Homo sapiens: one gene and its partner. The protein of the gene in region 1 purifies or fractionates together with the protein of each later gene. This does not show direct contact. Each region holds a gene or a part of one and is shown in the gene's direction. Other genes may lie near its edges. The genes, in order: VPS4A and RHEB.

Evidence for each region.
Region 2: the proteins of VPS4A (region 1) and RHEB purify together in Homo sapiens (affinity purification with mass spectrometry, with the first as the bait; one large-scale study listed by BioGRID). This does not show direct contact.

Annotation. Positions count from the first base shown.
Region 1 is NC_000016.10:69,317,842-69,321,652, forward strand, and holds part of VPS4A (vacuolar protein sorting-associated protein 4A), read left to right. Parts: intron 1-808; coding exon 809-870; intron 871-981; coding exon 982-1,101; intron 1,102-1,545; coding exon 1,546-1,702; intron 1,703-2,299; coding exon 2,300-2,448; intron 2,449-2,846; coding exon 2,847-2,928; intron 2,929-3,209; coding exon 3,210-3,429; intron 3,430-3,811. UniProt on the Homo sapiens protein: Involved in late steps of the endosomal multivesicular bodies (MVB) pathway. Recognizes membrane-associated ESCRT-III assemblies and catalyzes their disassembly, possibly in combination with membrane fission.
Region 2 is NC_000007.14:151,492,343-151,496,153, reverse strand, and holds part of RHEB (GTP-binding protein Rheb), read left to right. Parts: intron 1-3,811. UniProt on the Homo sapiens protein: Small GTPase that acts as an allosteric activator of the canonical mTORC1 complex, an evolutionarily conserved central nutrient sensor that stimulates anabolic reactions and macromolecule biosynthesis to promote cellular biomass generation and growth.

The DNA of each region.
Region 1 (3,811 bases):
CTCGGGAGGCTGACGCCAGAGAATTCAGAGAATTACTTGAACCCGGGAGGCGGAGATTGCAGTGAGCTGAGATGGAGATTGTGCCATCGCACTCCAACCTGGGCACCATCTCAAAAAAAAAAAAAAAAAAAAAAGAAGCTTCTGGCAGCTGCATTGTTTGACTGGCTTTTTTTTTTTTTTTTCCCCCAGACAGGGCTTCACTGTCTCCCAGGCTGGAGTGCAGTGGTGCGATCTTGGTTAACTGCAACCTCTGCCTCCCAAGTAGCTGGCACCATAGGTGCGTGCCACCATGCTTGGCTAATTTTGTGTTTTTTGTAGAGACAAGATCTCGCTGTTTCCCAGGCTGGTCTCAAACTCCTGGGCTCAAGCGATCCTCCCGCCTCAGCCTCCCAGAGTGCTGGGATTACAGGGGTGAGCCACCGCACCCAGCCTGGGCTGTGAGAGCCACTGCAGGTGGCCTCCCAGAGTATGAGGTGTGAGTCACCGCACCTGGCCTGGGCTGCTCTTTAAGTCCAGCTGAAGCACATTTCCCTTACGGCCTTCAGGAGAGGGCCGACCCGGATTCCCATCTGCTCCGCGAAGAAACAGGGCGGGTTATAGGAGTGTTTGCTGGGGGGGTCCTGAAGTGAGCTGCTGAGAGCATTGGCCCAAATGTCCCTGAAGTACTTGCTTGAGTCACACGGCACTGTTAAGCCAGGAAGGCTTCGTTCCTTAACCAGTGTGCAGGCAGCGGAGCCTGGACTTGCTGGGAGCACCTCTGTGCTCCAGGCTGAAGGGCCAGCTTGTGACTTTCCGTCTCCCTTCCCAGCAGTGACAGTGACAGTGAAGGGGATAATCCGGAGAAAAAGAAACTGCAAGAACAGCTGATGGGTAAGTGGCTCGCGGCCCTGTGGCAGCGGCAGGGGATGAGAGTGGGTCCGCTGCTGGGTTGGCTCATGCCCCTTGGCCGGGCCCGGGCCCGGGCCGGCCTCCCTCTCGCAGGTGCCGTCGTGATGGAGAAGCCCAACATACGGTGGAACGACGTGGCCGGGCTGGAGGGGGCCAAGGAGGCCCTCAAAGAAGCTGTCATTTTGCCAATCAAATTCCCACACTTGTTCACAGGTGAGAGTTGAGCCATTTCAAACCCCAATGTAAAAATTCCAGGCTTCCGCAGGGCTGGCACTCCGAGGCACCCGGGAGTCAGTGGCGACTCAGCCCCCGGGGCCTGCAGAGGGCCAGGCCTGGCTGCTCGCTGGTGTCCACAACACTGCTGTGGCTGGAGCTATGAGATGACGATCACGTCACAGGGTGGGGGCAGGATCAGGAAGCAGTGCCAGCCGGTGTCACTGTGCAAGGTCATGGGGTCATAGCAGGGGCACTGTGCAAGGTCATGGGGTCATAGCACAGGGCACAGCAGGGAATGTAGCTCCCATCACTTGTTTGCCAGTAGAGTCCGTTGTTTCACAGAATGCCCTGTTTTACTGTATGTATGGGACTCGAGACCCTCTGCTTTTCCTATTCCTTTCCCCAGTCAGGAGGCCTAACTTCTGTGGTTCTCTGTTGCAGGCAAGCGCACCCCCTGGCGGGGGATTCTGCTGTTCGGACCCCCTGGCACAGGGAAATCCTACCTGGCCAAAGCCGTGGCAACAGAGGCCAACAACTCCACCTTCTTCTCTGTGTCCTCCTCAGATCTGATGTCCAAGTGGCTGGGGGAGAGTGAAAAGTAAGTCGGCCACCAGGCCATGCTCTGCCAGCAGCCCCGGCACTGCTAGTGACCCAGCGGCCCACCCTGTGGAGTCACCTCTCAGAGGAGTGGTTTGGTTTTCAGGGAGGGTACCCAAGAGCAGTGTGTCGCTAGCTTATCGGCTGGGACACAGTCCCAACAAAGACAAGTGAAGGTGGAAGGGACCTGGGAGAGGTGAAGTGCTCCACAAGAGAAGGGAAAGGAAGTGAGGATATTTTTGGGGTCTGGGTTGCGGTCCCTGTTGGGGCAGTGTGTGGGGGACATGGTTCCCCACACTGACTCCTGTTTTGCGTGTGATGAGACGGGCTCGGAAGAAGGGGACTGACGTGTTGTAAGTGCAGAGCTAGCGCATGGGGCTCCTGGGATTGAGGCTCTGCGTTTGGGGCTGACACCAAGGTGTGCTCCTCCTCTTGGTGCAGTGTGGCCCGAGGGCTCCTCACCACCACGTTTTCCGCAATTCCGGCATGACCGTGGCCTGCGCCTCCCTGTGGGAAGGGTGAGAAGAGGGAAGTGCCGGGAGCCCAGGCGGGCACGGACGTGAACGTCTTGTCCTCACCCCCTTTCTCACCTTCACAGGCTGGTCAAGAACCTGTTTGAGCTGGCCAGGCAGCACAAGCCCTCCATCATCTTCATCGATGAGGTGGATTCCCTCTGCGGGTCCCGAAATGAAAATGAGAGTGAGGCCGCCCGGAGGATCAAAACGGAGTTCTTGGTCCAGATGCAGGGTGTGTGCCGGGCCCAGGGCCCCCTTGGTTCTTGTTGCACCTGAAGCCAACCCTGGGCTTTATTCTGAGCTGCGGCTGGATTTGGTTGTTCTCAGCCTCGGAGAGGCACTCCCCAGCTCCAGCCCCTCAGGGCACGGGTGGACTTCAATTCCCAAGAGGTGCCTGAGGCCTCTGCCTCACGGGCCACTCCACCCCTCCCATGGCAGGCAGTGCCATAGGTCTCACCTGGCACAGCCAGACCAAGATGTGGTTTAATCTCACTTGGGACCCTGCCAGTGGTGGGTGGCACAGGGATGGCTTCAATTGCTGACACACAAAGCCCCCGGGGTCTGTCCCCAGGTTTCAACTGACCCGTGCAGGTGTCCAGAGTCTGAGTCTTTGTCTCCCTTTCTCCACAGGGGTGGGGAATAACAATGATGGGACTCTGGTTCTTGGAGCCACAAACATCCCATGGGTGTTGGATTCGGCCATCAGGAGGAGGTGAGTCTTCCCCAGGAGAAGCCAGGGCTGGAGGCTTCCTCCCACCATGGTCACGGTCCGCCTGCTGCTGGCAGCCCGGGTGCAGCCTGGCCCCTTTTCCCTGGAGTCTTCCCGTCTGCCTGCCAAGCAGAGCCCTTTGTGAGGCTGGCTTGTTGAGGATGTGCCGCCAGCATCACTGGCCCATGAAATGCGTCCGTTTCACTCAAATCTTCGTGCCTCCCCTTCCGTGAATACCATTCCATCATCCGCTGTCAACTCCTGCCGTGTGCTGGGCTCTCTAGGTTTGAAAAACGAATTTATATCCCCTTGCCGGAGGAAGCTGCCCGCGCCCAGATGTTCCGGTTGCATCTCGGGAGCACTCCCCACAACCTCACGGATGCAAACATCCACGAGCTGGCCCGGAAGACGGAAGGCTACTCGGGCGCGGACATCAGCATCATCGTGCGGGACTCTCTCATGCAGCCCGTGAGGAAGGTGCAGTCGGCCACACACTTCAAAAAGGTGAGTGCCCGCGGCCACTGCTGAGAAAAATCTCATAGTAAGAGCGGGATGTTCGGTTTTTTTTTTCCCAGCTCCTGGTCCTGCTCCCCGGCTGCTCAGGTGACACAGTCTCTGAGGCCTCCTGGAGAGCCGAGGGCCAGTGCCATGGGGGCTGCACCCACTGTCCCCTCCCTGCAGCTCTTCTGGAGTGTGGCCATCTCAGGGTGTGTGAAAGCAGAGGACAGGGCCACTTTACTGTCTTAACCCTGCTGCGGCCTCCTCCGTCAGCACTGTGTGCTCTTGTGCGGGGTGGACACCAAATCAGTGTTTGGAAAGTGTTGGATATAAAATGACCAGGAAGACCTGTCTATTCATTCAGCAGATCTCTGCTGAGTATTTGCTG
Region 2 (3,811 bases), on another chromosome or scaffold:
CTTAAAGTTATGTTGTGAATTTGAGGTGGTGAAAGCAGCCCTGGAATGGGTTGTGTCCTAGATGCATTACATCGGTTCTAATGGACTCCCCCTTCTGCAGAATGCCTTGATAGACTAGTTAATAGATTGAAAATCTGGTCTTCCCCATCATATCCCAATGAACAAGCAATGTATAAACTGGGAAAATGCTGGGCTTGTAGGGAGTCGGTGGGAGGGGGGACAGACCGTGGCTGGAGTGCAGTGGCACGCTCAACGCACACTGCAGCCTCAACCCTTCGGCTCAAGCGATCCTCCTACATCAGCTTCTTGAGTAACTGAGACTATATGCACACATCACCACACTCAGCTAATTTTTATATTTTTTTTGTAGAGATAGGGTTTTATCACGTTGTCCAGGCTGGTCTCAAACTCCTGGGGTCAAGCAATCCACCGGCCTCAGCCTCCCAGAGTGCTGGGATTACAGGCATGAGCCACCACACCGGGCTAATAAGTTATTTTTTAGGAGAATAAGCATGATAACAAAGTCAATATTAATCTGAAAACTTAAAATAATTCTGTAAACAGTGCCTATTTTGCAGTAATCATGAGGTATAAGATTGAGTCAACACCCCTGAAAGTACACCTTCTGTAGTGAAAATACCAGCTGAGAAACTCACTGTGCCATTTTATCATTGGAAAAAATAATACAATGCTGTTCCCTGATAAAAGCTCAGAAGAATTTTTTAAAATAATTTTTATTTTTAAAAGTTAAGGTGGGTTTTGGTTTGGAGGAAGAGTATTTGACAGTTAATTGTAGGAATTGAGATACTGCCTTTTAAACCATTTATAGTAATTTATGTCATTAAATGAGTGATTTGTGTTTGAGGATAAACACACATCTGAGTATGGGCTACTTTTCCATTTATTTGGGATCACTCCTGTGTAGTTTTCATGTAACATTTTTCCAAAGAGTTGATCTGGAGTGTGAGATTATCTTCAGCAAGCGAGTAACAGTGTTTCCAGACCTGAATTTGCTAAGGACAAAAGCCAAAGTAAATATATGAAGTTATTGAGAGAAAAAGGTTAAAGGTGATCACAGTAGAGATCACCAATGCCTTTTTGTGGTTGCAAACAAACTAGAAAAACCTAACCAAAAGATCTGAACTACGTCTCCAGAAGACACTCCTTAAAGCCAGAAATTACAACTGGAACTGAGAACACTTGAAAATGAGCGGTGGGGTTTATTTATGAAGATTCATTAGCATTTAATGCTGACTTGTCAAGATTTCAACACTAGTTAATAATAGCACTTTTTAATGGAAATGGCAAAAAACAGCATGTTAGCAAATATAGCCTTCCTATCCCTTCTGGATTAGTTAAATAATTAATGACCTCACCTTGGCGGGAGAGCCCCAGGGAGGAGAGACCCAAGGGAAACGTAGTTTTTCTCCAGTGCCACTTCTGCTAATGAACAGTACCTTTCTCCTAGGGCCAGTCTGATTGAAAATCCAGTTTCCACCCTGGAGGAATACGTTTTAAATTCTGGTATCCCAGTTTACTATTCATGAAAACAACAGTTGGCTGTCAACCTGCGATGTGATTTTGGTTAGACTACATTGTCTGTTACCGGAATGATTACTTATGTTTTCAAGTGAAATGTTAATTTAGCCTGTCAAATAGTGTATGCCCATTGTGATACAAATAAGGAGCTCTTCTCTCACTCCGTTTTTGCACTTGATCTCATGCTGTCTTGTTTAATGTGTGTAACTTTCTTTTCTGTTCAAATGTGGCTTCCTGAATTTCACGGGAAACTCCTGAGGCTCTTTTCCCCCGTCCCTTCACTCCCGCAAGTCAGGTTGTCGAGACTTGGCCAGTGCCAGTTCAGAGGACTGTCTGATCCAGGGGTTCCTGGTTGCCCAGTGCTTGGGGAGCTTATCCCATGTATCATACTTAGCCCCTCTTTCACTATTTTTAGTCCAGTTCTACTACACAAAATGTTGCAAAAATCTTTTTAATTATATTATTTCCTTTTTTCTTTGTAACTCTTGCCCATATCTTTAGGGAGAAAATGATCGCTTTCTTTCCTTTCTTTCCATTTGTAAGCAAAACAAAAACCCCACAAACCCTTATCCTACCCACATAAGGGTATAAAAAGCCCACTGGAGTCCTTAGAAGTACCTTGCAAAAGCCCTTAAGAAGTTTGTTCCCTTCTTTCTTTCTAATTAAATTTCATTTCTTTAAGCAGTAGCATTCAGTGTAAATAACAGTTTGTTTTTTTTTTACTCCTTCTAATTTTTCAGTTTCAATAACATGAGAGGAGTTTTCTTCTTGCTATTTTTGTTACCTGAAGTAGTTCTGCTGTATTTTGAGTTAAATTCTCCTTTACAGGCTAGCATATATAACATGGTTTCTTTTCAACACAATTCATTTTAAATTTGTGGAATTCTTAAACTATTGTATTCCTATATCACAGGCAAGCCTGTGATTAGGTACCAATAAATACTAATTGAATTGTTTCTTAATTTCTGTTGAACTGTGTTTTGTATTTCATTTGTATAAAATTGAGATCTTTTGTAGTATCTAAATGGCTAAGAGTGACCTTTGGAGATCTACGCTTTAATTTCGTTCATTTGTTCAGAAATCTCAATGTTTACAATGTGTCGGCTGGCCCTGTGCTGGCTTCAGTGGAGTGTTCACTAAATGAATATCATTCCAAATAACTTAATAAAACAGTAGCTATGAGAATGACTTTTAAGGAATGGGTACTACCTTAGGGTGGTCTTGAAGGTTTCTCTGTGAAACTAACATTTGAGCTCAGATCAGAATGACAAAGATGAGTCATATATTCAGAGATGGGGGCAGTGGGGGTTGCTAGAGTAAAGGGGCCAAGGCAGGCAGGAACTCCAGGAGCAGAAGGGATGTGACTGGAGCCTCAGGATGGGTTGTCGGGGGCTGTTGGCGGATGAGGTCAGAGTGGTAACCAGAGCAGGGATGGCCTGGTGTTTGTGGGCCACGGTTAGAAGCTGGGAATTTAGGGCAGGCGCGGTGGCTCACGCCTGTCATCCCAGCACTTTGGGAGGCCGAGGCGGGTGGATCATGAGGTCAGGAGTTCGAGACCAGCCTGACCAATGTGGTGAAACCCTGTCTCTACTAAAAATACAAAAAAAATTAGTCAGGTGTGGTGGCGCGTGCCTGTAATCCCAGCTACTCAGGAGGGCTGAGGCAGGAGAATCGCCTCAACCCGGGAGGCAGAGGTTGCAGTGAGCCAAGATTGCACCACTGCACTCCAGCCTGGGTGACACAGCAAGACTCCGTCTCAAAAAAAAAAAAAAAAAATGTTGAGAATTTATTCTAATTGCAATGAGGATTGGAAGCAGAGAAGTAGCGTTTAATTTTCAAATGCTCATGTAGGTTGCTTTGTAGAGAATAATTTCAGGTATTAGTAATTCTAGAGACATTTTGAACTGTATTGGGCTGCGGATAAGGAGTAAATAGGTCTACCAACTTGTGGCCTTTCCTTCTCAGCAACCCCTACTTTTTTTCTTTTTTTTTTTTTATAAGACAGAGTCTCACTCTGTTGCCCAGAGTGGAGTGCAGTGGCGCCATCTCAGCTCACTGCAACCTCCGCCTCCTGGGTTCAAACTATCCTCCTGCCTCAGCCTCCTGAGTAGCTGGGATCGCAGGTGCCCATCACCACGCTTGGGTAACTTTTTTTGTATTTTTAGTAGAGACAGGACCAACCATGTTGGCCAGGCTGGTCTCGAACTCCAGACCTCAGGTGATCCACCCGCTTCAGCCTCCCAAAGTGCTGGAATTACAAGCATGAGCCACC